4 linked regions of the Homo sapiens genome follow. The protein of the gene in region 1 interacts with the protein of each later gene in a pairwise test. Each region holds a gene or a part of one and is shown in the gene's direction. Other genes may lie near its edges. The genes, in order: LRP2BP, CDKL3, P4HA3 and C1orf50.

Region 1 (7,025 bases):
TTTCCCAATCACACCCTTCCCACAGCGCCAGGTCTCCCCCCTCTCCGAGCCCTAGCTCAGGGCAGTCATCTACAAGAGAGGATGAAGGGAAGGAGGGGCTGCTTCTACCCCGCTTCCCCAGCGTCTCGGGCTCCAGGCAGCAGACCACTTACAGGAGTGATTGCCAGTGTCTCAAAGCAAGTGCCCATCTTAGTTAGAACTAAGACTTTAAATCATTCTTTAAAATCTTCGGCGCTTTCCCTTATTTTCCACATCCCTACTCCCTATGACATTGAGGTTAACATGGAGTTGACTGGATCACATTCTCACACAATTGTACATATTTGTGTCTGGGTATAAAGGATGACTTCTTTCCATTATCCTTTTTTTTTTTTTTTTTTTTTTTAGACGGAGTCTCGCTCTGTTGCCCAGGCTGGAGTGCAGTGGTGCGATCTCGGCTCACTGCAAGCTCTGCCTTCCGGGTTCACGCCATTCTCCTGCCTCAGCCTCCCGAGTAGCTGGGACTACAGGCACCCGCTACCATGCCCAGCTAATTTTTTGTATCTTTTTTAGTAGAGACGGGGTTTCACCATGTTAGCCAGGATGGTCTCAATCTCCTAACCTCGTGATCCGCCTGCCTTGGCCTCCCAAAGTGCTGGGATTACAGGCGTGAGCCACCGCGCCCAGCCAATTGTCTATTTTTAAAGAAGATGTGCTAGTGAAAGGGTTTTCTGGTCCTATGTGGCTAACGTCCAAACTGAAGGTTGATGTTTCCATACGTGATCCAAAGAAATAGAAAATGCTTTCTTCTCCGTTCAGTTTAAATCCACAAAGTGACATTAAACTTCCAGTAGTAATATTAGAAGAAAAAAGAAACATACCTTTGTTTTCCAGTGGTTATTGAGCCTGCTGAGCATAATTACAGAGACATGTGAAGTCACCACTCTGGGAAGCTCATCTTCTCCTGGTATGAGGTGCCTACATGGACCCTTCCCCACACAGCAAACAACTTAGTTCTCAAAGCAGTAGAGAGAAATCACTTCAGGCACAAGGACAGTCTCTAGGCGCATCGTTTTACAAACACTTACCATAACTGATGTCTTTTCCATTTCACAACTCTACATCCTCTCAGGATCGCTGACTATGATGAGGTTCACGACATCCCCATGATCGCCCAGGTCACAGACTGTCTCCCGGAGTTCATCGGCAGAGGCATGGCAATGGCATCCTTCTACCACGCAAGGTGTCTTCAGCTTGGCTTGGGCATCACCAGGGATGAAACAACCGCTAAACACTATTATTCTAAAGTAAGCTTTAGAACAAAATATAAATTCACCCAAAGAGAAACTGCCAGGCTTTTAGCTGCAACTTGAATAGTTTTACGGATTAGTGTTTTTTCTACTCAATTACTGTGCAGATAACCTCTGTCTACAGAGAAGCTGTCAGACATGCAGATTGTTTGCAGACAATTCTGTCAGAATCTTATTAGCATAATTTAGCTCCAATGATTAAAAGTCCTATTTTGATGCAAATTACTCTTTCATTCTGCTACTATCTGCAGCCTAAGGCCCAGCACCAAGACCTTAAAGCTGAACAGTTTTTCTTTCATCTAGAACAAGTGTGAATGTATACGTTCATTCTAGTACAGTAATGAAGTTTTTTATTCTAGTACAGAGTTTAAAGTTTTTTTGAGCGTGACATCTACCCCACTTAGGCGGGATATTTTTGAGTTTGAGGTAATCAGTTAAAATAAGTCTTTCATATTTTAATCCATGTGATCAATTTATTTAGATCCCAAATGCGTTTCACATCTCAAAGTAAATACTAAAAAGCAAGGGGTGTGGTAGTGGAGGGGGTGTAAGGGAGATCATTATGAGTACTAACTCTTAAGTTTAGATTTTTTTTAAAAAAAGAAAAACCAAAAAGCTGTGCACATCTTAGGTCCATCACATCCACGAGTCAGAATTACATCATAGCAGACTTGGTAGAGCAGTGTTTGTGGAACACAGATTGTTCAGCCTGAGTGGGGGAGTCTTCTGAGTCCCTTGGCTGACTCTGATATTACAGCAGTGGTTCCCAAGCTTCTCTGCATGTTAAAATCACCCGAGGATCTTTTACAAATTCCAAAGTTCAGGCCTTATTTCAGAAAATTTCAATCATGGTCTCTAGGAGACAGAAGCGTATTTGTTGAAGTTCCCTGTGGGATTCCAATGTCAGGTAAGTTTGGGAACCCTAAATTACTTTAAAATTAAAACTTCCAGAGCATCAAAGCCATATTAAAACATAAACATAGACACATAGCACACAGCCAAATGCAACTGATCTTTAAGATATTTACCTCTACACCATTCTTAGCATGAATAACAGTTGTCTAACTTTTTTCATTTAAATGTTCTCTGTACTGGCCAGGCACAGTGGTTCATGCCTGTAATCCCAGCACTTCGGGAGGCTGAGGCAGGCAGATCACTTGAGGTCAGGAGTTCGAGACCAGCCTGGCCAACATGGTGAAACTGGGTCTCTACTAAAAATACTAAATAATCCTGTCTCTACTGAAAAATAAAATTAGCCAGGCATGGCAATGTGTGCCTGTAAACCCAGCTACTCGCGAGGCTGAGGCAGGAGAATTGCTTCAACCTGGGAGCAGAGGTTGCAGTGAGCCGAGATCACACCACTGCACTCCAGCCTGGGACTCTGTCTCAAAAAAAAAAAAAAAAAAAAAGCTCTCTGTATTACATCAATTTCCAAACCAAGCCGATTTCAGGTTCTATCCTATCCTTAATATCCTTAGAAAACTCTAGTCAAATATATTTTGAAATATACTATATAGTCATCCTGACTAGAACAACAAAAAAAGTCCAGGTACCGTGGCTCATGCCTGTAATCCCAGCACTTTGGGAGGCCGAGGTGGGAGGATTACCTGAGGCCAAGAGTGTGAGACCAACCTGTCCAATATGGCAAAATCCCATCTCTACTAGAAATACAAAAATTAGCCCATCATGGTAACGCATGTCCATAGTCCCAGCTACTCGGGAGGCTGAGGCATGAGAATCGCTTGAACCTGCAAGGAGGAGGCTGCAGTGAGCCGAGGCTGTGCCGCTGCACTCCAGCCTGGGCAACACAGTGAGACTCCATCTCAAAAAAAAAAAAAAAACAAAACAGATTCCAATCTGAGAACGATTTTCCATACGATGGGAGAAAATAGCCCCATTACTCTGCAACTAGGATACTGTACTCTAGGACTCTAGGATACACATCTAGAATACTGTACTCAGTTTAGGCCATTGTACATTATGGGGATACTGATAAAATGGAGATCATTTAGAGGCAGTAAACCAGTGAAGGGTCTGGAATGATATCATATGACGCATGATATGAGGAACAGAAATGGTCTCCCTCAGAGCAAAAGGACACAAGGTGTCCCGACAGCGGTGTTCACTGGACCGGCAGTGTCCCGCAGGAAGGGAACGGGTTGGGAGGGAGAGGCAGTGTCCCGCAGGAAGGGAACAGGTTGGGAGGGAGCAGAATCAGTGCCCATGGCAGGCAGTGTGTTATGGCAGAAGGTGAGGCAGTAAGATGGTAACTGGGACCTGGAGGCGACAGACCCAGGCCTGCTCTCGGCTCTGCCACCGTCAGGCAGGGTGACTCCCACTTCCTAGAGTGTTAGGTTTCTGTGAAACCAGCATTATGTATTCTGTTAGGACCCTTCGAGGATTCTGGAGTACATGGAGAGAAACACCAGCCTAAAATAAGGGAAAGTTTTCTTTTTTTTGAGACGGAGTCTGGCTCTGTTGCCCAGGCTGGAGTGCAGTGGCGCAATCTCGGCTCTCTGCAAGCTCCGCCTCCCAGGTTCACGCCATTCTCCTGGCTCAGCCTCCCGAGTAGCTGGCACCACAGGCGCCCACCACCACGCCTGGCTAATTTTTGTATTTTTAGTAGAGACGGAGTTTCACTGTGTTAGCCGGGATGGTCTCGATCTCCTGACCTCGTGATCCATCCACCTCGGCCTCCCAAAGTGCTGGGATTACAGGTGTGAGCTACCGCGCCCGGCCATAAGGGAGAGTTTTCTAACACAACAGTTCAGGAAACAAAGAAAAACACAAGTTTTCTCTGAAGGTGAAAACTTCTACATATGTAGAATGTGTAACTTCCTGCTACTGGAAGCAACCAAGCAAATACCTAGTGACCAACTGTCGTGGGTACTGAAGGGACAATTACTGCATAGAATGGGGTTTGGATGAGAGCTCTATATCCCAAATTGTTGACATTCTAGAAATTATGCACCTTGTCACTATTTAGACATAATAAAATTATTTTAGCTGTATATTTTAAAATAAAATTTTACAGATGCTGTTATTCACATAATGAGATCATAACAACTTTGAGGCCAAATGTTAATGCTCTCCATTTTACTTATTTTAATAATTCATAACATACAATGCTATCATTGGTGCTTAAGTTCCCTTTATTCTTGGCATTGATAAAATATCTCTTTCAAATGAGAATAACATGGTTATTTTGAGTATTGATCTATTCTGCATAGGTTAAAGTAGGACATCAGAATAGAAAGTATCTTAACAAATTTTCTTGAAATTCACTGTACTTTACTATTCTTAAAAATGAATCAAAAAAGAAAAAAAAAAAAAGAAGAAAGACCCAAACAATTAGAATGTATCTAAATATCTGACTCTTTTTGATTTTAAGGCTTGTCGTCTGAATCCCGCATTGGCAGATGAACTTCACTCCTTACTTATTCGTCAAAGAATTTAGACCACAATGTATTTCAACAAAGATCATCAATGCTAACACCTCACAATGTGTGTATTTTTACAGTAGCTATGTTTGGTTATTTTGCACATCACAAATTACACTATCCTGGGTATTTTACAGGTGACATGTTACTTCGTTCTTGAATTCGTACGCTGTTAAGTTTTGCAACTTGAAACCTAGACACAAGGTCAAATTGCTGGAAGAGTCCTCAGAGGTCCACCTCTTACCCTACAGACTGGCCGAGACCATATCAAGTATTAAAACCATTCTATACAGCAAGTATCGTTTATCCTTTCTTAAACACCGAGTCTCCAAAAATACTTAGTTTAGCTTTAGTTTAGTAAGTTCAGAAGTAGAAACAAACTTATTTAAAACCATCATTTGAAAGTTTAATTCTTTAAATTTGTCTCTTAGTTTTGTGAATTTTGAATAATAATGTTTAAATTTTGTTTCAGTCATTTAAAATTTAAATTTTCAGTCATTTAAAATTTTAAAAATTTAAAATTTCACAAAACTAAGGGTAAAAGACATTTAAAGAATTAAACTTAAATAAGTGTGTGCAGCATTTCTACTTCTGAAGTTATTAAAGCTAAAACTGCACTAAGCCTTTTGAGACATCCTTTATTCTTAAAAAGCTCATAAATAATTGGCTTATTACATATAAACTTCAAAAAAGTGGGTTATAAGACATTGCTTTAGAATCTTGCCCCTCCAAATCTTCCCTCAAAGATCTTAATGAGTAAAACAACTGCTACATACATATGCAGAATGTGTAATAAAACAAAAAGCAATTGCTATATGAAAATATTCGTAAGAAAAGTAAAGCAAATTGTTTCTTTGTGCTTCAGCTCATTTTCCATATTTTTAAAACCCTGTGGTAAAAGCCTCAATGAAATCATTTACAAGAACTACAATTAAATATTGTTAAAATTAGCAAAAGGCTTTCCGTATATAGATGACATCTATGAAGGCAAAAGGTGACAGTAAAAACAGTAAGATCCATATGCATAAGATTGTACAAGGCTATTCATTTGTGAAACAAATATACATATCGAAGACAGGTCTCAGAGATACCTTAACTATTCCTTTTTTTATAAACATATTAAAGGATGTGGCTTTATTTTATAAATCACAACCATCCCAACAGTGGATTTAAACAAGATTTCTTTTTAGTAATGGGAAAATGCAATTAATATGGAGGTGATAGTCACTAAGAACTGTTGAATGGCAGAAAAGTATTTGCTCTCGTTTTATGTTCTGGCTTGTCTGTATTGCCTGAACTTCATTTTGTCTTTGTGTAAGGGAAGAAATTTCAACAGACTCGGGTTTGAGATATCCTCAAATGGTCATGTATTTCTGTCTCAAATCTCTTAATACCACCCATGTAACATTCCTTCAACCACTTGAAGATCCAAATTCCCAACTAGTATTCTCTTCTCCACACTTAATCCAGTTCCTAAAGATTATTATTATTATTATTATTATTATTTTTTTTTTTTTGAGACGGAGTCTCCTGACCTAATCTTAGCCCGGCGCAGTGGCTCACGTCTGTAATCCCAGCACTTTGGGAGGCTGAGGCGGGCAGATCATGAGGTCAGGAGTTTGAGACCAGGCTGGCCAACGTGGTGAAACCCCGTCTCTACTAAAAATACAAAAATTAGCCGGGCGTGATGGCGGACGCCTGTAGTCCCAGCTACTCGGGAGGCTGAGACAGAAGAACTGCTTGAAACCAGGAGGCAGAGGTTGCAGTGAGCTGAGATCGCGCAAATTGCACTCCAGCCTCGGTGACAAGAGCGAGACTCCATCTCAAAAAAAAATAAAAAGAATCTTAAAATAGGAACATAATAAAAGATCGGCCCTAAGTAAAGAGCACTTTTTAAACTGCCATTAAAGATGGGTTTCAGAAATCATAAACTTTGACGTGTGCCATACATGGTAACATGCTATGCTTATATGTCTTCTATAAATCCAATGCAGAATTTAAAATTTCAGTTTACTCTAGTTACCATAAAGCTAATGCTCTGGCACAAGCGAGTCCCTGCAAACTACCACTGCTGAGGACAGTAGTAAACCCCTTGACCTGAGACTGCGGTGAGTCTGTAACTCGAGTGCATTGAGACTTCCAGATCATTACTCTTACACACACACACACACACACACATACACACACACACACTCCTTCTCTAAGATTCCTTGTAGCTGATATCTCATGGAAAAATGACATTTTATCATAAATAAATATAGAGACAAAATAATAGTGATCTTTCTCATTCGCAATG
Region 2 (7,025 bases), on another chromosome or scaffold:
AAAATTAATGATTTTAAAAATATTTAAATAAGTATGTATTCTATTTATTGGAATCTATTTACATCCTTTAAGGTTTATGATCTTGACGATATAGTATAGCTGTTTCATATGCAGCAGATGTTCTTGTTTGCTTTATCTGATACAAAAATAATATTTTCTTCTTTCTTTGTAAGTCTATATGAGATATGATGGATCAATTTGCCTTCTTTCTCTCTCTTTTTTTTTTTTTTTTTTTTTAAGAAATGGAGTCTCCCTGTTGCCCAGGCTGCAGCGCAGTGGCATGATCATAGCTCACTGCAGCCTCCATCACCTGGGCTTAAGCGATCTTCCTGTCTTGGACCTGTGAAAGAGCTAGGATTACAGGCATGAGCCACTGTGCCTGGCCTAATTTGAGGAAATATATTAGGCATCTGTGGATTATTAGAATGGCTCTACGCTGGGCGCGGTGGTTCACGCCAGTAATCCTAGCACTTTGGGAGGCCGAGGCGGGCGGATTGCCTGAGCTCAGGAGTTCGAGACCAGCCTGGGCAACATGGTGAAACCCTGTCTCTACTAAAACACAAAAAATTAGCCAGGCATGGCAGTGTGTGCCTGTAGTCCCAGCTACTCGGGAGGCTGAGGTAGGAGAATTGCTTGAACCCAGGAGGAGGAGGTTGCAGTGAGCTGAGATTGCGCCACTGCACTCCAGTCTGGGCGACAGAGTGAGACTCTGTCTCAAAAAAAAAAAAAAAAAAAAAGCCGGCCATGGTGGCAGGGGCCTGTAATCCCAGCTACACAAGAGGCTGAGGCAGGAGAATCACTTGAACCCGGGAGGCGGAGGTTTCAGTGAGCCGAGACCACGCCACTGCACTCCAGCCTGGGCAGCAGAGCGAGACTCCATCTCAAATAAATAAATAAATAGAACAGCTCTATTTCTAGACAATGAAAAGTGAGTCAGTAAAGATGTTATGATTTTGTGAAAGATATCAGTTCATGTCCTGATGACCTAAAACATAATACTATAGATAAGGCAATTGTGTACTGTGAATGAAAATCTGATTAGGAGATTTTTTTCCCCCAAGGCAGTATCTCTTGCTCTTTCTTCAACTGTTGCACTTAAATTGATTATTTTTTTTCTATTTAATCATTTTGGAAAACTAACCAGTATGTGACAATACAGAGATGAACTTGAATATGTGTTTTACTGTAACAACTGTTATGCAGATAATTTTGAGATACCCTAACTATTCTCATTGGCTTTTTGTTATTGTTGTTGTTATTGTTCTGAGACAGTCTTACTCTGTCTGTCGCCCAGGCTGGAGTGCAGTGGCACGATCCTGGCTCACTGCAACCTCTGCCTCCCAGGTTCAAGCAATTCTCATGCCTCAGCCTCCAAGTAGCTGGGATTACAGGCACGTACGACCACGCCCAGCTAATTTTTGTATTTTTAGTAGAGACGGGGTTTCACCATGTTGCCCAGGCTGATTTAGAACTCCTGGCTTCATGTGATCTGCCCACCTCAGCCTCCCAAAGTACTGAGATTACAGGTGTGAGCCACTGCACCTGGCACTCACTGGCTTTTTATAGGATTTTAAATTTGATGTAATCTAATTCCACTGGAGAGATTTCTTGGACTAGTTAATATTCTTAGTCTAAAAAACTTGTCATAATTACTTAATTCAAATTACTTTTTTTTTAGACAGAGTTTCACTCTTGTTGCCCAGGCTGCAGTGTAATGGCACAATCTCAGCTCACCACAACCTCGGCCTCCCGGGTTCAAGCGATTCTCCTGCCTCAGCCTCCTGAGTAGCTGGGATTACAGGCATGGACCATCATGCCAGGCTAATTTTGTATTTTTAGTAGAGACAGCGTTTCTCCATGTTGGTCAGGCTGATCTCGAACTCCCGACCTCAGGTGATCCGCCTGCCTTGGCCTACCAAAGTGCTGGGATTATAGAAGTGAGCCACCGGCCTGACCCAAACTAAATTTTTATGCTAGAATTTCATTAAATAAATTACAGTTAGAGTAATTAGTGAGAATATCTGTAGAAAAGTTGTCTAGTAATGGAGAAAAAATTAAACAACTTGAAGAGGGGTACTAGAGCATTTCTAGGGATTTCATTTCATGGTTTATCTGAGTAAATACTGTACCTAATTCCTCATCCCTGAATGGATCTTCTACAATGCTTATTCATATTACCCCTTCCCTACTTTCACTGCTTTTGCCTTTAAAATAAAGACTGGACAGGAAACCAGTAATTTTCCTTAAGTAGAGGATTAATATGGTAGTGTCCAAAAGCAATCAATTCCTTGAGACGGAGTTTCACTCTTGTCACCCCGGCTGGAGTGCGATGGCACAATCTCGGCTCACTGCAACCTCCACCTCCTGGGTTCAAGCGATTCTCCTCTCTTAATCTCTCTAGTAGCTGGGATTACAGGTGCCCACCACCACGCTGGTCTAATTTTTGTGTTTTTAGTAGAGACGGTGTTTCACCATGTTGACCAGGCTGGTCTCGAACTCCTGACCTCATGTGATTTGCCCGCCTCAGCCTCCCAAAGTGCTGGGATTATAGGTGTGCACCACCATGCCCAGCCAACAGTCAATTCTTTTCACTGCTGTCAATATGCTATTGCTGCAGCACTGTGGCATCTTGCCAACCAGGGAAATTTGGAGCAAAAAGGAAAGGAATCTGGTGTTATATTTTGGATGTTTTTCTCTAGTCATGTTTTAAGGACTTTAGTCTCTTCGTTAGTTACAGAGAAGTAGAAAAATTGACACTGTGTTATTGGAATGAAGGCAAATATATTTTCATAAAGGTATAGTTTTCTAGAGCTAGGAACAGTGGCTCATGCCTGTAGTCCTAGCAACTTGGGAGGCCAAGGCAGGAAGATCACTTGAGGCCAGGAGTTCGAGACCAGCCTGGCAATATAGCAAGACTTGTTCTCTTAAAAAAAAAAACAAAAAAAAACCCTTCATTTTTAGCTAATTGAACACATATTCTTGATAGTTTGAACAAAATGGTTAAATATTTCAGAATTGATTATAATTAAGTCAGTGTGATGAAAAATAGAATAAGTAGCATACAATATTAAATCTCATTTGTTTCCTAAGCTGATACATGGGCATCATTTACATTTTAAAATTATTTTAGCAATAATTGTTGCCAGTCTAAAAAGGTGGTTAATTGTTTAATAGAAGAGTACAGACAAGGAGCAAACGTTCACCCACAAATAATTACATATTTATGTAAAGTTTCTGTGGTTATAAATTGGTAGTTCACATATCTGAAGATTTTGCATATATTTTGGTGTTCTTTTGTTATAGTCTAATGAATTTATGATGCTCCCTAGAACTTATGGTTTACTTTCTAGAGTTTAGGTTTAAAATTAGAGAATAATTAATTTATATAAATTCAGATCACATACTTAATCGTGTTGAAATCCATGCTCATTTGAAAACATAAGGGCCTTTTAAATTTTGGGTGTTAAATTTAACCACAAACCAAGTTTAAAAATAGCAGGATATCTTTCAACAGAATACTAAGTTATAGTACATTAAATTATTTTAATAAGCAACCAAATGCCAACTTGAGATAAAGTAATATATCTCACTTTGTCCTATAAATATTGATTATAAAATGGATTACATTTTCTTAAAATAGGAATGGAAGCACATTGGTTGAGAAATTTCAGTTGAAATGCATGGAACATAGGCTGGGCATGATGGTGCACACCTACAATTCCAGGAGTTGGGGAGGCTGAGGCAGGAGGATCACCTGAGGTCAGGAGTTCAAGACCAGCCTGGCCAACATGGTGAAACCCTGTTTCTACTAAAAGTACAAAAATGAGCTGGGCATGGTGGTGCACGCTTGTAATCCCAGCTGTTCAGGAGGCTGAGGCAGGAGGATTGATTGAAATAGGGTGGTGGAGGTTGCACTGAGCCAAGATTGTGCTACTGCACTCCAGCCTGGCGACAGAGCAAGACTCCATCTCAAAAAAAAGAAAAAAGAAATGCATGGAACAAAGCTAAGAATATGACTGTTTCTTTACAAAATTTACACGTTATATGTACAAATTGTTAGGCTTGAAATAATTAAAAATTTGTGTTGTTTCTTTTGTCAATAGCAATTTCATCACGAAAACCTGGTCAATCTGATTGAAGTTTTTAGACAGAAAAAGAAAATTCATTTGGTATTTGAATTTATTGACCACACAGTATTAGATGAGTTACAACATTATTGTCATGGACTAGAGAGTAAGCGACTTAGAAAATACCTCTTCCAGATCCTTCGAGCAATTGACTATCTTCACAGTAATAATGTAAGTGCTTCAGAATAAGCCAATTTGTAGGATGAATATGAATCATAAGTGCTCCTTATACATTGTTTTATTTTTATGAAGGTGGCTAACATTCTTTTTCTATACAATAATAATAGACATCCTGAAAATGGGGATAGGGAATAGGGGGCACTACCTTTTAGTTGCAGAACCAAAAAATATTGAGCACTCAGTAATTCCAACTATAAGGCAGACCAAGTATGGGATGGTAAAGGCAGTATCAGTAATTTTGTTTAGTAGAATCAGTAGTCAGCTGGAGCACTATTATTAGAGAAAGTATATTAAAACATTGAAAGTCAGGTCTGTGGCTTAATGGAGAGTTGCTCATATAAAGGGAGGTTTAGCAAGACTCCGCCTCACAAAAAAAAAGGCGGGGGGAATAGTAAGTAAATTGTGGATGCCTTTAGGGGAAGAAAGGAGATATAAAGTGGCGGAGCGGTTTGAGGCCTTGTCATTTAACCTATGAAAAATCAAGGAAGAGGAAAGATCACAGCTATTCTGATGTTTAGTGTTGACTTTAGCATTGGCTTGTAAGTGTTTAGCTCAGCAGGTTTTTTGTTTGGTTGGTTGGTTGGTTTTTGAGATGGAGTTTTGCTCTCGTTGCCCAGGCTGGAGTACAATGGCATGATCTTGGCTCACTGCAACCTCTGCCTCCTGGGTTCAAGCAATTCTCCTGCCTCTCCTTAAAACATCTCGGTGTTTGTCCGAGATGACGGTGCTCCTCCTCAATCAACCACCACACCTGGCCAATATTTTGTAGAGATGGGGTTTTCCCATGTTACCCAGGCTGGTCTCAAACTCCTGGGCTCAAGTGATTTGCCCGCCTCAGCCTCCCAAAATGCTGGATTACAGGTGTGAGCTACTGCACCTGGCACAGATTTTTTAAAAGATCAAATTAGGTACTAGGTATAAAGCATTTAAACTGTGTCAGGCACATTTTAAGTGCTCAGTAGATAGTGCTGGTAGGCTGGCTATAGTAGCTCACACCTCTAATCTCAGCATTTTGAGAGGCTGAGGCAGGAGGATCACTTGAGCTCAAAAGTTCAAGCCCAGCCTGGGCAACATAGCAAGACCTTGTCTCTACTAAAAATAAAAAATAAATTAGCTGGGCATCAGGCATCGTGCACAATCCTGTACTCCCGGCTACTTGTGAGGCCGAGGTAGGAGGATTGTTTGAGCCTGGGAGGTCAAGGCTGCAGTAAGCTATGATTGCACCACTGCATCCTGGTTGACAGAGCAAGATTCTGTAAGTAAGTAAATAAAATAAATAAATAAATAAATAAATATAGCAAGCTGGTTTGGAGTGAGGAATATTAATAGTTGTGTTAAGGAAAGAAAAGAAAAAAAAGGAAAAGAAAAGAAAGCTGGTAGGGAGTCAAGAATAGTGGTGTTATCTTTGTATCTGTTTAGAGCCTTGTCTATATTAGACTCTAAAAATGTTTCTTGAATAAAAGGAGATCTCAGTCTGGGCTAAACTGACAGTAGAAGACTTCCAAGATGAGGTAAAACTAAAGTAAGTAGAATTTTGAACTGTAGCTAGGATTTTGTTGGAGTAGAGGAGAAAATGCATTCAGGTGGGGTACCATTGTGAAAATAGAAGTAGACCGGAGCAGGGGACTTCAGAGAGTGCTGTTAAGTCAGGTTACAGGGAACAACAGATAGAGGAAGATAAGATTACACAGGTTCACAGGGGAGAGATTTTCCAGAACCTTGAAATTTACCCACAGGAGGGTGGACTCTTTCCTGAAGATCCTGGGAAACTACTGAAGATTTTGTTGTTTTTTTATTTTTGTTTTTCTTGAGACAGGATCTTGCTTTGTTGCCCAGATGGGAGTGCAGTAGCATGATCATAGCTCACTGCAGCCTCCAACTTCTGGGCTCAAGTGATCCTCCTGCCTCAGCCTCCCAAGTTGCTAGGACTACAGGCACATGCCACCACATCCAGCCCATTGAAGGTTCTTGAGCATTGCTGTGACTGGATGAAAACAAAATCTAATTTTATTTTAACATGAGTAGAAGATATGAGTAGATAGAGACCCAGAGAGATCAGACAGGTAGCTGTTGTGACAATCTAGATGTGTGGGTGGTAACGGTTTGGACTAAGTAGCAATGGGAAGGAGAGGAAGGATGGCAGAGGGATAGGATGGAAATATTTCAAAAGGAAAATCACAGGACTTGGGAAGTAATTAGATATGAGAGGGATGAAAACAAAGGGTGAAGTCAGAGGTTATTACAGTATTTTTTTTTGAGACAGAGTCTCTCTCTGTCACCCAGGCTGGAGTACAATGGCAGGATCTCGGCTCACTGCAACTTCCGCCTTCTGGGTTCAAGCGATTCTTCCTGCTTCACCCTCCTGAGTAGCTGGGATTACAGGCTCCTGCCACCAGGCCCGGCTAATTTTTGTATTTTTATTTTATTTTATTTTATTTTATTTTATTTTGAGACAGAGTCTTGCTCTGTAGCCCAGGCTGGAGTGCAATGGCGTGATCTCACTGCAGCCTCCTTCTCCTGGGTTCAAGTGATTCTCCTGCCTCAGCCTCCCAAGTAACTGGGTTTACAGGTGCGTGCCATCATGCCCGGCTAATTTTTGTATTTTTAGTAGAGACGGGGTTTCACCGTGTTGGTCAGGCTGATATCAAACTCCTGACCTCGTGATCCGCCCACCTTAGCCTCCCAAAGTGCTGGGATTACAGGCGTGAGCCACCGCGC
Region 3 (7,025 bases), on another chromosome or scaffold:
ACAGTTAATTTTGTAGTTTAGTTTGATATTTTGAAGACTGTCATTCTGTCATTCTGTTCTCTAGTGACTGCTCTAAAACCCAGTGAAATGTTTGCTTTTTAAGAGACAGGGTCTTGCTCTGTCACCCAGGCTAGAGTGCAGTGGCTCTATCATAGCTCACTATAACCTCAAACCCCTGGCTCAAGTGATCCTTCTGCCTAAGCCTACCAAGTAACTAGGACTACGGGTGCACACCACCATGCCTGGCTAGGGTTTTTTTGTTTTTGTTTTTGTTTGGTTTGGTTTGATTTGGTAGAGACGGGGTCTTGCTCTCTTGCCCAGACTGGTCTTGAACTCCTGACCTGAAGTGATCCTCCCTCCTCGGGCTCCCAAAGTGTTGGGATTGCAAGCATGAGCTACCGTGCCCAGCCTTTATGTTTGCCTTTTAAAACAAGAATTTTGGCAGTTCTTGCTAATTTTTCTATACTCCCAATCTGGTGATTTTATGTAACTTGAGAGGCTATTTCCAAGGCTCTCAGTTGAGATAGAAAAATGCAGTATTCTTGAGGTTGAAACTACTCCCTACTCCAAGTTAATGAATAAAAATTATACTTGTTATAGTATATATAGTTATATGCCAGTATGGTACATATACTAGTTATATATATAAAAAGAGTTTATCCTAGCTTTTGTTGTTGCTGTTTTTGCAGTTTAAAACACCACCAAGAGTGAGAGAGAAGTGTCAGCAGCAATTTTTTCTGTGCTAAGGATTAAGCATTAATAATGTCCCAGAAGAACTGATACAAAACCATTTCTGAATTCCAAAGGCAAAACATATTGAAGTGAAATAGCCCATGTATTGTGGTTGGATAACCTGCCCAGGCTATGTTTAATGCAGGGATTGGGTTGCAAATTTTATGTGCAGATTCTTGAAGGAAAGGATCTGATTTTCCATTCTCAGCAGTATTTGTTAAAGCAAAAAGACATTTAGGAAACCCTGAGGTTTGAATTCAGCATCCAGTAACTCAGTTTCCAGTCTCTGGAAACCGCTATGTGCTCAGAGGCTGGGCATAGGGCCAACTTTTGGATTCTAAGCCAACCTCAGTTATCAGTTGAGAGATTTTTTTTCTTTGTGTGACAGAAAAATGGCATATCTAAACACTGGATTGAATTGATGTGCTGCAATAGAGATCAAACCCTGACCTAAACAAATCAACCCCAAAATGCAAAGAGGGGTGCTAAGAAAACAAGGAAGTAGACAGCACTTTTGATTTGATGCATGACTTGGGGCAAATATTCACCTCTCTGCTTTACCACTTTACCTTTGTGCCTCAGTGTCCTCTGATTCCTATTAAACATTAGTCCTCAAGCTAATGAGGAATCTGTTTATTCAGTTGTGGAGGGGGTGATGAGAAGAAATAACAGAATGTTCATGCTGAAAAGATCCATAGAAATCTTCTAGACTAGATCAGTTCCTTCATTTTATGGATGAGGAAACTGAGTGATAGTTGGAGGCTGGGTCAGAATAAGTCCCAGTTCCTTCCTATCCAGCTGTCTTATAAAATCACTGCCCTCTCAGCCTCAATTGTTCCTGGACACCTACTCTTTAAGCTGGACTCAAGCCCAAGTCTCCGCTTGTTAAGATTTTTCATCAAGCAGTGGAGTATCTTTCCCTAAGTAGTTCCATACGGAGCCAAAGCAGGAGACAATGGGTAGTAAAGATCCCACACCCTGGAGGCTGGTTTCATTTCAAAACCCTAGAGCTTCAGCTCACAGACTGCCTTGTCTTTGGGATCAGAGACACCCTGGGACTTGACAGGCTTCCCATTTCCCCACTGGGAGACCCAGGTCCAGGTTCTTGTTCCTTAGTTTATGTTGAATTGAACATTTGGCTCCTTGGAAGCCTCAAGGCAGTCGTCTTCTATTTCAGGCTTCATTTCATAGTTGAGGACCTCACTCTTTAGAAATCCTCAGATAAGACTCTGCTCCAAGGGGTTGAAATCCTACCACCTTGCCACTTCCTCTATTTTTCACTTTCATCTCTGTCTCCTCGCAGAAGTCGCCCACTCTTGCCAAAGGACTCATAGTCTCCTGTGCTCTTGCACACGTTCATTTTTTTTCACTTTGCACAAACTTTTTTTTCTTCTACTTCCATTCTTGTTATACTATTTTTGAAGTTGATAATTTTAAAACGAGCGGGAAAACTCTTGGAGAGCAGGAATAGTACCTTAATCTGCCCTGTTATAGATAATAAATTTCAGTAATATAAATTCCATTGGTGTTTTAGAAATGGAATTAACCAGAGTATACTAGGAAAGGAAACAGCATCTTTTGCCTATATAAACACTGTTGAAGGACACTGGAGAAGGGAAATTAACTGGAAAGATGATCACTTCAGGCCCTACCATTTCTGCCCTTTTCTGCATTTGTTGCCAAGCTAGAAAGGTTGGAAGTGTGCTGGACGATCCCACCTCTTATTCCCCTTTACAGTCATCACCACTTCCTAAACTCCTTCCTTGAACCCAGTCCATTCTCCATCGCTGTCGTGGTTCAGAGTCTCCTTGTCTTGTGCTTGCAGTTTTGAAGTGGCCTCCTCCCCACCCTCTCACACATTTATATATGTGAACAAGTCATAGTTTCAACAGTACCACTCTCACTTAAAGCCTTCTCTAACCTGCTCTGGCCAAATTAATCATCCCCTCTCTGTCCTCCCCACTAAGCCTTGTTCTTAAATCTGGTATTGCATCTGTAATGTAATTATTTGTGTCTTTCTTACTCACTAAACTGTGGATCCTTGAGACCAAGATTATTTCCTTATTCAGAATTTTGTCCCTAGCTCCTAGGAGAGTATACTTCATTCTTTCTTTCATAGAAATATGTATTGAATTTAGGTATAGAATGATGAGAAAAAAAGTTATTTTCTTATCCATGAAATCCTTGAGTATTAGACCTCGTCTTGCCTTTGTATCCCTAGAATCTAGCATGGAGTCTGACATCTAGCAAATAACTCGTGTAGATTGACTTACTACAAATATATCTCAAGCCTCTGTGCCTTTGTACACTAATGGTTCCTGTTGGCTTGAAAAATACTCTTCTTCTCTTCTTTGTTCTAGCTCCTTAAGAAACCATATAGCATAATCAGCTGCGAACCCAGGTTTTGGAGTTAGTCAGACTTGGGTTCCATCCTGGCTTTGCCCTTTACTAACAGTGTGGCTTTGTTTCAGTTTCCTCTCTGTGGAATGGGTAAAATTAAATCTACACTAAGGGTCGGTTGGAAGGTGGGGGGTAATTAAATGAGACAATCTATTTAGAGCACCCAACAGGCCAATACATGGTAGGAGCTCAATAAGTAATAGCTTTCAGTATTTTAACAAATCATTCAAGATTCAGATCACATGCCATCTCTTCTTGGAAGCCTTTCCTTCCCCCTTCTAACTCCCACCTGGATGAGCTGCCCTGCCTGCACAGCTGCAGCATTATATGCTCACTTCTCTCATAGCAGAGAGGTCCCCAACCCCTGGGCCAGGGACCGGTACCAGTCCATGGCCTGTTAGGAGGCGGGCCCCCCAGCAGGAGGTGAGTGGTGGGCAAGGGAGCATTACTCTTTGAGCTCCACCTCCTGTCAGATCAGCCACGGCATTAGATTCTCATAGGAGCGTGAACCTTATTGTGAACTGCACATGTGAGGGATCTAGGTTGTGTGCTCCTTATAGGAATCTAACTGGTACCTGATGATCTGAGGTGGAACAGTTTCATCCCGAAACCATCCCCCAACCCCCCGGTCCGTGGAAAAAATTGTTTTCCATGAAACTAGTCCCTGGTGCCAAAAAGGTTGGGGACCACTATATAGCACATATCACAGTGGTTATAATTAATTCAATAGTGTTTTTGAGTTTCTACCAGATACTAAGTATTGCATATACAGTGATGACAGGAGAAAAAGACTTTGTGATCCCTTTGAGAGCTGGACCCTGTCTTGCCTTTATATCTCTAGCATGGTGCCTGAAATACAGTAATTGATTAATATAGACTGACTCATTCAGTGAACAAAAGAGTGGACCTACTTTTGTTGTATCTATAGTTTTCATATTCTTTGGGCTTGCATGGCTTTTTGGTTGGACTATTATGTGAATCTCAAGAGGTTCAGCATGTCAGTGTTAGCTACTCTTAATGTACACACACCATGCCAGCCTTCCCTAGGTGTAGTGGTTGTATCAGGAGGTGAGATCATTCTACTCCTTTCTTTCAGATTCTACGACAAGGTACTTTCTTTGCATGAGGATTCAACAACCCCTGTGGCTAACCCTCTGCTTGCATTTACTCTCATCAAACGCCTGCAGTCTGACTGGAGGAATGTGGTACATAGTCTGGAGGCCAGTGAGAACATCCGAGGTAATGAGGAGGAGGGCTGGAGGGTAAGAGAGAAGATTCTATCTCCTGACTCGGTGGTAAGGAGAGAGATTCTGTTGGGATGTGATTTCAAAGGGTAATGGAGTAGGTGGGTATTACTTAATATCCTTAGCTCTAGCTAGCACAAAGAATTAGGCCCGCTTGCTAATCAGTTTATATGATTATACCTTAGAAAGCACTTTCATATCAATTGTCTCATTTGATGTTCACTACAATCCTGTGACAAAGTACAAGCCTTCCATTTATATATGTATAGAAAATAACGGTCTTCTAGTAGTTTCTGTTTCATTAAATTGTCACTACAGTGTCATCTATAGCAAGATCACTTTCCTAATTTATTCTACTTTGTGCTGTAAGAAGTTTGTTGACGGCCAGGCGCGGTGGCTCACACCTGTATTGCAGCACTTTGGGAGGCTGAGGTGGGCTGATCACTTGAGGTCAGGAGTTCCAGACCAGCCTAACCAACATAGTGAAACCCTGTCGCTATCAAAAATACAAAAATTACCGGGGAGTCGTGGGATTACATGCCTGTAATCCCAGCTACTCGGGAGCTGAGGCAGGAGAATTGCTTGAATCCGGGAGGCAGAGGTTGCAGTGAGCCAAGATCGCACCACTGCACTCCAGCCTGGGGTGACAGAGCGAGACTTTGTCTCAAAAAAAAAAAAAGTGTTGACTTTTGGGCTGGGCACAGTGGTTCATGCCTGTAATCCCAGCACTTTGGGAGGCTAAGATTGCTTGAGCTCAGGAGTTCGAGACTAGCCTGGGCAATATAGCGAAACCTATTAAAAATAACAAAAATTAGCCAGGCATGGTGGCGCATGCCTGTAGACTTGGGAAGCTGAGGCACAAGAATTGCTTGAACCCAGAAGGTGGAGGTTGCAGTGAGCTGAGATTGCGCCACTGCTCTCTAGCCTGGGCGACTGAGCAAGACCCTGTCTCAAAAAAAAAAAAAAAAAAAAGAAGTTTGTTGATTTTTGGAAAGCTAACAGTGAGAAGAGTCTGGGTGTGGTTGCTCATGCCAATAATCTCAACACTTTGGGAGCTTGAGTTGGAAGGATCACTTGAGGCCAGAAGTTTGAGACCAGCCTGGGCAACATAGCAAGACCCTGTCTCTACAAAAAAATTTATTTAAATTAGATGGATGTGATGGCGTGTGCCTGAAGTCCTGCCTACTCAGAAGGCTGAGGTGAGAGGCTCACTTGAGCCCAGGAATTCAAGATTATAGTGAGCTATGATCATGCCAGTGTGCTCCAGCCTAGGCAACAGAACAAGATCCTATCTCTATTAAAAGAAAGAAAGAAAAGAAAGAAAAGAGGAGAGAAGAGAAAAAAAGAAAAGAAAAGAAAAAGAAAAAAAGAAAAAGAAAAAGAAGAGTTGTCTCCCTAAAGAGTGAGACTCCTGTAAACATACAGGATAGGACAATATAATGAAGCTGTATGCCTTAATTTTTATTCCTCATTCACTCATTCTGAATGTTCCTCATTCAGAATTGCATTAAGCATCCACCCTGTGCCAGGAACTGTGCTTGCCTCTGGGAACACAAAGACAAATCCAACTTGATGTCATTAAATATTTGAACAGGTGGTCATGCCTTACATGTATTAAATGCCCAACTCCTGTTTCTTGAATGCTGGGTTGATGTTTTTACTACTTTTACAGCTCTGAAGGATGGCTATGAGAAGGTGGAGCAAGACCTTCCAGCCTTTGAGGACCTTGAGGGAGCAGCAAGGGCCCTGATGCGGCTGCAGGACGTGTACATGCTCAATGTGAAAGGCCTGGCCCGAGGTGTCTTTCAGAGAGTCACTGGCTCTGCCATCACTGACCTGTACAGCCCCAAACGGCTCTTTTCTCTCACAGGGGATGACTGCTTCCAAGTTGGCAAGGTAACAATATTCAAGAGAGGGCCAATTGCTTGGCTCTGGTTTCTTATGGATAAAATAACTATGTACCGATTGATTTTACTTCTTTTTAATACTTACAGTAAACTTGGAAATTTGATATCATTTCCATTTTCAGAGAAAGAAAACAAGATTCAGAGAGGGTAAATAACTTGCCCTAAGATTATGCAATTTTAAGGGCAGAACTAAAGCTTGAACCCAGTCTTTTGACTCCAAATCTCAGGCCCTTTCCATAGTAGTTAAGGTGTTTATATACTTAGAACACTCTTGAGATTGAAAGGGGTGTTATTAATTATGCTAGAACAACAGACATGAACTAGGAAAAATGGTCCTTTGTTCACCCTAACTATAGCACCCTGCCAGTGCATGAACTCCTGGGTAGAAAGGGAAAGCAGGGGGTCAGGGACGCAAGGTTGGGGAAAAGGATAAGAGATGGTGATGGAAAGGTAAGATCACGGAAACAGCCTCCTGAGACTTTCTGGAATCCAATGCAACATTTCCTAAGCATTTGGAAGTACAAAATTAAAGTAGTGTCCAAAATCTAAGGCCATTCACTTTAACATTACTTGAGGAAATAGACTTCAGGAACACCCCCGCCCCCCATCTGAGGTATTTAACTGATCTTTGATTATAAGTTGTAATCACACGTGAGATCATTTTGTAATATACTCTTTGCCAGCCTTTGCTATAAAAAGCAATGGAGCAAATCCATTTTAACTTTGAAGATGTTTATTGCAG
Region 4 (7,705 bases), on another chromosome or scaffold:
ATCCCTGCCTCCCTGAGCCCTCCACTCAGCGTGCCCAGCCCCTGCCAGCCCCAGGAAGCACACCTATTGCAGGAACTACCCACGACAGATTAGGAGCATAGTGCCCTGGGCAGATTTGTAGCTCTTTCCCAAGTCAGATTTAGGGGTTCCCCAGATTACAGGAAGTAGCAATGTTCCATTTTAAAACAAAGGTCATATTGTATGGGGAGTGCTGTGAAAGACTGACTGCCCACATAATATGTTTTCATGCTGGGTGCGGTGGCTCAGGTCTGTAATCCCAGCATTTTTAGAGGCCGAGGCAGGTGGATCACTTGAGCTCAGGAGTTCAAGACCAGTCTGGGCAACATGGTGAAACCCTGTCTTTACGAAAAATACAAAAATTACATGGTACTATATGCCTGTAGTCCCAGCTACTCTGCAGGCTGAGGTGGGAGGACGCTTGGGCCTGGGAAGCAGAGGTTGCAGTGAGCCAAGATGGTGCCACAGCACTCCAGCTTGGGTGACACAGCAGGACCCTGACTCAAAAAAAAAAAAATACATATATATATTTCATGAATCAAATGTAATGCCTGAGCTGAAGAAATTCTGTGGCTTCAAGGATTTAGGGGTAGAGAAAAAAGAGCAGCTAACAGACTATGCCTAAGAATTTTCCTAGAAAAAAATTTTTTTTTGCATAAAATAAAATGAAGAATTTTTGAGACATTTAGGGAAAAGGTGGATGGCTAAAAATTCTAAGGTCCTTTACTAAGTCCAGACATAGTATTTTCTGACTCAAAGCTCAGGGCTCATGAGGTTCAAACAAATAGCTCTAAGAAATCTGAGGGGGTGGTCGGGGGCGGTAGCTCATGCCTGTAATCCCAGCACTTTGGGAGGCCGAAGGGGGCAGATCTCTTGAGGTCAGGAGTTTGAGACCAGCCTGGCCAACATGGTGAAACCCCGTCTCTACTAAAAATACAAAAATTAGCTGGGCGTTGTGGCGCACACCCGTAATCCCAGCTTCTTGGGAGGCTGAAGCAGGAGAATCGCTTGAACCCGGGAGGCGGAGGTTACAGCGAGCCGAGATCACAGCACCATACTCCAGCCTGGGTGACAGAGCGAGACTCTTGTCTCAAAAAAAAAAAAAAAAAAAAAAAAAAAAGAAATCCAAGGGGGGAGAAATAGGCTACAGACCACAATGCCCACAGCAATGGACTCCAGCATGTCAAAGTAACACAGGTTTCATATATAGAATCCAACCAAATAAATCACTGATGATCTAGTAATTAACTATGTGGACACTGGTATCAAAGAGACCAGCCGTGGCCAGGCACGGGGGTTCACGCCTATAATCCCAGCACTTTGGGAGGCTGAGGCGGGCGGATCATGAGGTCAGGAGTTTGAGACCAGCGGATCATGAGGTCAGGAGTTTGAGACCAACAATAGCTGGGCGTGGTGGCATGTGCCTGTAATCCCAGCTACTCAGGAGGCTGAGGCAGGAGAATCGCTTGAACCCAGGAGGCGGAGGTTGCAGTGAGCCGAGATCGCACCATTGCACTCTAGCTTGGGCAACAAGAGCGAAACTCCGTCTCAAAAGAAAAGAGGGCTGGGTGCGGTGGCTCACGCCTGTAATCCCGCACTTTGGGAGGCCGAGGCAGGTGGATCACAAGGTCAGGAGATCCAGACCATCCTGGCCAATATGGAGAAACCCCATCTCTACTAAAAATACAAAAATTAGCCGGATGTGATGGCACGTGCCTGTAATCCCAGCTACTCGGGAGGCTGAGGTAGGGGAGTCACTTGAACCAGAAAACCAGAAGTCAGAGGTTGCAGTAAGCCAAGGTCGCCACTGCACTCCAGCCTGGCAACAGCGAGACTCCATCTCAAAAAAAAAAAAAAAAAAAAAGAAAGAAAGAAAAGAGACAGGCCAGCATCACATCTGGGCTTAATGACTCACTGACTGGCTGGGCAGTAGACAAGATACTTAAAGTTTACTTTCTAAACTCAGTTTCCCTAATCTATCATCTGGAGATAGCATTCTCTAGCTATCTCCTAGCATTGTTGAGAGTTCAACGAGATAATATGCAGCCTGTAATACATGGTGCTGGGCACAGATTAAGTGCTCAATAAATTTTAGGTGGTATGATTAATATGCTAAGAAAACTTATTTTCTTATCATTGGTACTAGTAAAGGCACACTAAAGGAGTCAGCCCTGGTTAGGTGACCCAAGGTAAATAACTCCCCATCTCTGTACCTCAGTTTCTTTAACTGTAAAATTAGAAATTTTTTCAGGTCTGTCCCTTTCATGGAATTACTCTAGCTCTTGTGTCTTTCAGCGCTGCTCCTGCCTTTCTCTGTTCTCCCTCATGTCCTCACTCCTCTCTCCACCCCCAGCCTTCTTTACTCTCTAAGCACTGAGGTACTTAACCTCCTCTCTTGTGGACAAATGTCTGCCTCCTAATCAAGTGCCACCACTTTCTCCTTCTTCCAAGGCTCATTCACCATGGCTTCCAGAATAAGCGTTTTAAAACCCAAATCTGAGGATGGCTCCCTGCAGTCCGCAGAATTCTCTTCCAAATCTGGCCTCACTGACTTTTCTAGCCGCCTCTCCTACTACTCCCCACACACATCTCGACATTGCAATCACAAGAGTTCATTTTTTTTCCTGAATACATCATGCTTTGGTTCTACTTTTCTCTCTATCTGGAGGAGCCTTCTTTCCTCTCCCCCTGGCAATACTTAGGGCAGGCTTCAATATTACCTCTTCTTTGAAGTCTAATTTCTCTGAGATAAAGCTAGAGTCTCCCTCCTTTGTGCTCCCGCAGCCCTAAGTATATGCCCTTGCAGTAGCCCTTACTACAGTAACTCTTAACAGCAAAGCAAGACAAAGCAAAGACGTTAGTCGAGCATTTAATTACTTGTACAAGAACTGGAATGCAGTAGGTATGCAATACATGTTTGTCAAATAGTTTTAGAAAGTGCTATGATGAAGCGACATAACCAAAGACATAACGCAATTATTTTGATTTCAAGTCCAGCGCTCTTCCGAGTAACTAGGAAAAATGAGGGGAACTGTGTAGGCAGAATGCTGTGGAGGGGTGGAAATCTGAGGTCCCCAAGAGTCTCTAAGTGTCTCTTTAGATCGAATCGAAGGTCTTTTAAACAACAGATATACCAGATATAATGCACAACTCTTTCTCCCCCCACCCCCAATACAGTGGGACTAATAACAGCATCTACCTGACAAGATATTATGAAGATTAGGGCAAATGCGTTAATAAATGCAAACTGCTTAAAATAGTGCCTGGAAGTATGTGCTGGCTATCATCATCATCATCATCGTCACCATCACCACCACCAAACAAGCCTGGAACGCTCCAAGCCCAAGTGTACACTTGGACACATGGCACTCTGGCATTCCGAAAAATACTCATTTTCTTTGTAAACCTGGCAGACTAGCCAGAGGGTCCCCCCCCCGCCCCCACACACACACAGAAAGGGCCAGGCAGCCCCTGCTGGCGACGTGGCAACCTCACATCCTGAAAGAGAGCTGCTGAATCAAACAGCAGGAAAAGCACCACTGGAAAACCAACCGGAAGGGAGATATTGTAGACCGCTACTAGCTTCTCACTCGGACACTTACAATGACATCAGAATGGGAGACCCAAACTGCCGCTTTAATTCCTTCCAGGAGATTTCCCAGGGAACAAAATGGCCATGAGTTTTGCTTGGCCTGTGCCCTAACCCCAGGCTGGACCTTTGGGGTTAGCATCTGCCCATGCGAACTGGGCGAGGAAGGTCTCCTGCCAGGGAGCAGCTCTCCCCGGCTCCGAGGAGAGCTCCCCAGCCAGGAGGCCACTTTCCCCTCCCTGCGGACACTTCCCCGATCCCCCAAGCTCCTCAGGTCCCCTGCAACACTCCTCTCCCCAGAAGGACCCCGGCCGCCTGGTTCCAGGCAGGTCTGCACCTTGAAGTAGGCGACCTGCAGGTAGTTGTAGGGGCTCCGCTTGCGGAACTCCAGCTCCATCTCTTCGCTGAGCGAGTGGGCGGCCGGCGGCCCGAGGCAGCGGCGCAGGCAGGCAGCGCGACGCAGAAGGCCCCCGAAGAAGCTCAGGTCGCGCAGGGCGGCGGCGCCCGAGGCCTGGGCCGGGCTGGGGGACCAGTCGGGGTCCAGCTCCCACGGGAAGTCGGCGGCACACTGGGTGCGGCAGCGCAGGCGAAGGGCGCGGAGGGCTGCCCGGGAGCGCAGCGCCCGTTCCATGCTCAGGACCACCCCGGGCCAGTCCCCGCGCGCGTAGGCTGCGGTCCCCTCGGCGAAGAGCAGATCAGGCGTCACCATGCCCCATCCTGCCTCGGACTCGACCTCGGCTTGGGAGGCAGCGGCCACGACAGCCAGCAGTGTGGTCAGCAGCTTCAACGCGCGTACCGCCATCGCTCCCTCAGACCTAACGGAACCGCCAGCCACCCGCCACCAAGGCCGGAGTCCTACCCCCGGCGAAGGCCCGCCCCCGGGCGAAGCCCCACCTTCCAAGCCGGGCGGCGCATGCCCACGAGGCTTGCACCGCCTCTTTTCCTTTCAGTCAGCCCGGATCCCCCCACCGGCCCTCAGCGAATCCCGGCGCGTCAGCCGGAGCCCCGCCTCCGAGCTCAGGCCTTGCTCAGTCGAACTGACGCCCAGTAGACAAGAAAGACGGAAGCTCCGCCCACGCGCCTTTATGCGCAGGCTCTTCCTACTCGCACAGCCCAGGGAGTGGGGAGGATAAGGCGCTGTCATGGAGGACGCCGCCGCGCCGGGGCGGACCGAGGGGGTCCTTGAAAGGCAAGGAGCGCCGCCAGCTGCAGGCCAGGGAGGTATGCGGGGCGGGAGTCAGCAGGGGGAAGTCAGCTCCCGCGAGGCAGCCGGTCTCGGGGCTCCGCGGGAGGCCGACGGCGGGAGCTCACGGCTTGTGTTCCTGGGTGTGTGTCGCAGGAGCCCTGGTGGAGCTCACCCCGACCCCCGGCGGCCTGGCCCTGGTGAGCCCCTACCACACCCACCGGGCCGGGGACCCCTTAGACCTCGTGGCGCTCGCAGAGCAGGTGCAGAAGGTGAGGAGGCGCGGCCGGGGCAGCGAATAACCATCTTCGTTCACGTTGTACTCTGCGTCTTTCGGCTCAGACCTCACTACCACCTATGGTGGGGGTGGCATTTGCTCTTGTCTCCATTTTACAGACGAGTAAAGCCGACTGTCATTGTGAGTCGGTGGCCTGATTCGAATGACCTTCTGGGACCAAAGGTTCCTCTAACTGCAACTTGAGTGCCCATAATCTTCCTTCGTGGGAAGGTTTACACAACACTTTAGTGTTCATTATTTCATTTGCACCTTAGGACAGCCTTGTGAGGTAGGCAGTACAGAGTTATTCTTCCCATTTGACACAAAGAAAAGTTCTTCGGGAAGTTTCAAGGTCCGCTTATTTTAAGCTGCTTCCCATAAGATCTTTGTTACCTGAGAGTTTAAACATCTTCTAGCAGGGCAAGGACTCCAAGTTTAGTCCTCATTAAACACAGTATTCCCAAGCCCAGTGTTTATATATGGATGGCCAAAATAAGTCAAATAAGGAGGAAATGTGAAATAATGGAAAAAACACTGGAAGTTTGGACACATGAGTATTAATCCCACTTTTGATACTAACTTGCAGTGCGACTTAAGGCAGATTACTTCTCTCTGGACCTCAACTATTTTATCTGTGAAGTGAAAGGTTTGAAGTAGTAGAGCTCCAAGATCTAAAGTTTTGTCATTATTCAATGAAAAACCAGATTCCTTCTTATCTCTTATCAAGACTTCCAGTTGTACACCCTCTTCAGTGTCCACAGATGGAGGGTCCTGCTGTTTTAAAGATTATCATGGCCCCTTATCCCTGTATACACTATCAGATTTGGCCTTGATTATGTTCCAGGGTCTTTGCTTTGCCCAAAATTATTTAATGTGCTCAAATTCCCTCACATCTCTTTTTTTTTCAATGATCCTAGAAATCCTTCGAATCCTTTTTTTTTTAAAATTAAGAAAAATTCAGATACGCAGAAAGCTCCTTTAATTCAAAACTTGGCTTTCTTCTTTTTGAAGAGCTGGGGAGCAAAGTGCAACTTTTATTTATTAAGAGAATATGCATCTAGTTAATCAGATTACTCTTATTGGGAGGGAGGTTGGCAGGGACAGAATCTTGTGCACACAACGTATTCATGTGCTATTGAATGACTATCGTGTTTATTACGATGGCCTGAACAGATGGAAGAAAGAACACAGTTTTTGTCTTTCATCCTATAATCTTATGAAATACAGAGGATGCATTATTATGCTGCCTCTGTTTCCCCAATACAATCTGTATTTGAGAAGCTGAAGAAAAAAAAAACTTTAGAGACAAACAAATTGAATCAAACATATTAACTATCTAAAATGTACTTTTTGGCCAGGTGCCGTGGCTCACACTTGTAATCCCAGCACTTTGGGAGGCCAAGGTGGGTGGATCATTTGAAGTCAGGAGTTCGAGACCAGTCTGGCCAACATGGTGAAACCCCGTCTCTACTAAAAGGTGTGGTGACTCATGCCTGTAGTCTCAGCTACTCGGGAGGCTGAGGCATGAGAATCGCTTGAGCCCAGGAGACAGAGGTTGCAGTGAGCCGAGATCGCACCACTGTACTCCAGAATTGGTGACAGAGTGAGACTCTTAAAAAAAAACAAAAAAATGAGGCTGGGTGTGGTGGCTCACGCCTGTAATCTTAGCACTTTGGGAGGCTAAGGCGGGAGGATTGCCTGAGCTCAGGAGTTGGAGACCAACCTGGGCGACATGTGAAACCCTGTCTCTACTAAAATACAAAAAATTAGCCGGGCATGGTGGTGTGTGCCTGTAGTCCGAAGCTACTCTGGAGGCTGAGGCGGGAGAACTGCTTGAACCTGGGAGGCAGAGGTTGCAGTGAGCTGAGATCACACCACTGCACTCCAGCCTGGGTGACAGAGCAAGTCTAAAAAGAAAAAAAAATGGTGGTGGGCTGGGTGCAGTGGCTCACGCTTGTAATCCGAGCACTTTGGGAGGCCAAGGCGGGTGGATCACGAGATCAGGAATTCAAGACCAGCCTGGCCAACATAGTGAAACCCTGTCTCTACTAAAAATACAAAAAATTAGCCGGGCATGGTGGCAGACGCCCGTAATTCCAGCTACTCATGAGGCTGAGGCCGGAGAATCACTTGAACCTGGGAGGCAGATGTTGCAGTGAGTGGAGATTGTGCCACTTCACTCCAGCCTGGGTGACAAAGTAAGACTCCGTCTCAAAAAAAAAAGTACTTTTTTAGCAAGACTGACCCAGGTATTGGTGTGTGTTCAGAAAGCTCAGGAGGCCTGGTATTAAGGCATGAATTTTGGAATCTGACCTGTGTTCAGATCCTTTGCTGTTTATTATCTGTGAAACCTTGGACAGGTTGCCTCATGTCTGTGAGTCTTAATTGCTAAAATGAGAAAGTGAGGTTATCATCTCCAGCGTCATAAAGGTGTTGTGAGAAGTAAATGAGATGAATGTAAAGGGCCTCAGAGTAGTTGAGGCCAGGGTTAGTGCTTAGTAGTTGTAGGTACTCTTCCCTTCCTTTCTTTTTTATGAGGCTCTTTTGTTTTTAAGTTGTTCGTGAAATATTTTGCATTTTTTTTGTTTGTTTCTTTTTTCCTTTTTTTGGACCTCAGACTAATCCATATTTTGCATTT

The links.
Region 2: the proteins of LRP2BP (region 1) and CDKL3 interact in binary tests that used the Homo sapiens proteins (3 or more experiments, as listed by UniProt).
Region 3: the proteins of LRP2BP (region 1) and P4HA3 interact in binary tests that used the Homo sapiens proteins (3 or more experiments, as listed by UniProt).
Region 4: the proteins of LRP2BP (region 1) and C1orf50 interact in binary tests that used the Homo sapiens proteins (3 or more experiments, as listed by UniProt).

What each region holds. Positions count from the first base shown.
Region 1 is NC_000004.12:185,364,901-185,371,925, reverse strand, and holds part of LRP2BP (LRP2-binding protein), read left to right. Parts: intron 1-860; exon of another isoform or gene 861-968; intron 969-1,067; exon of another isoform or gene 1,068-1,111; coding exon 1,112-1,286; exon of another isoform or gene 1,287-1,291; intron 1,292-1,740; exon of another isoform or gene 1,741-2,131; coding exon of another isoform or gene 2,132-2,176; intron 2,177-4,680; coding exon 4,681-4,746; 3' UTR 4,747-7,025. UniProt on the Homo sapiens protein: May act as an adapter that regulates LRP2 function.
Region 2 is NC_000005.10:134,357,170-134,364,194, reverse strand, and holds part of CDKL3 (cyclin-dependent kinase-like 3), read left to right. Parts: intron 1-4,103; coding exon 4,104-4,298; intron 4,299-7,025.
Region 3 is NC_000011.10:74,301,616-74,308,640, reverse strand, and holds part of P4HA3 (prolyl 4-hydroxylase subunit alpha-3 isoform 1 precursor), read left to right. Parts: intron 1-4,228; coding exon 4,229-4,371; intron 4,372-6,048; coding exon 6,049-6,272; intron 6,273-7,025. UniProt on the Homo sapiens protein: Catalyzes the post-translational formation of 4-hydroxyproline in -Xaa-Pro-Gly- sequences in collagens and other proteins.
Region 4 is NC_000001.11:42,762,563-42,770,267, forward strand, and holds the start of C1orf50 (uncharacterized protein C1orf50), read left to right. Parts: upstream 1-4,686; 5' UTR 4,687-4,749; coding exon 4,750-4,828; intron 4,829-4,946; coding exon 4,947-5,062; intron 5,063-7,705. Other genes in the region: P3H1 (prolyl 3-hydroxylase 1 isoform 3 precursor), read right to left, coding at 3,945-4,409.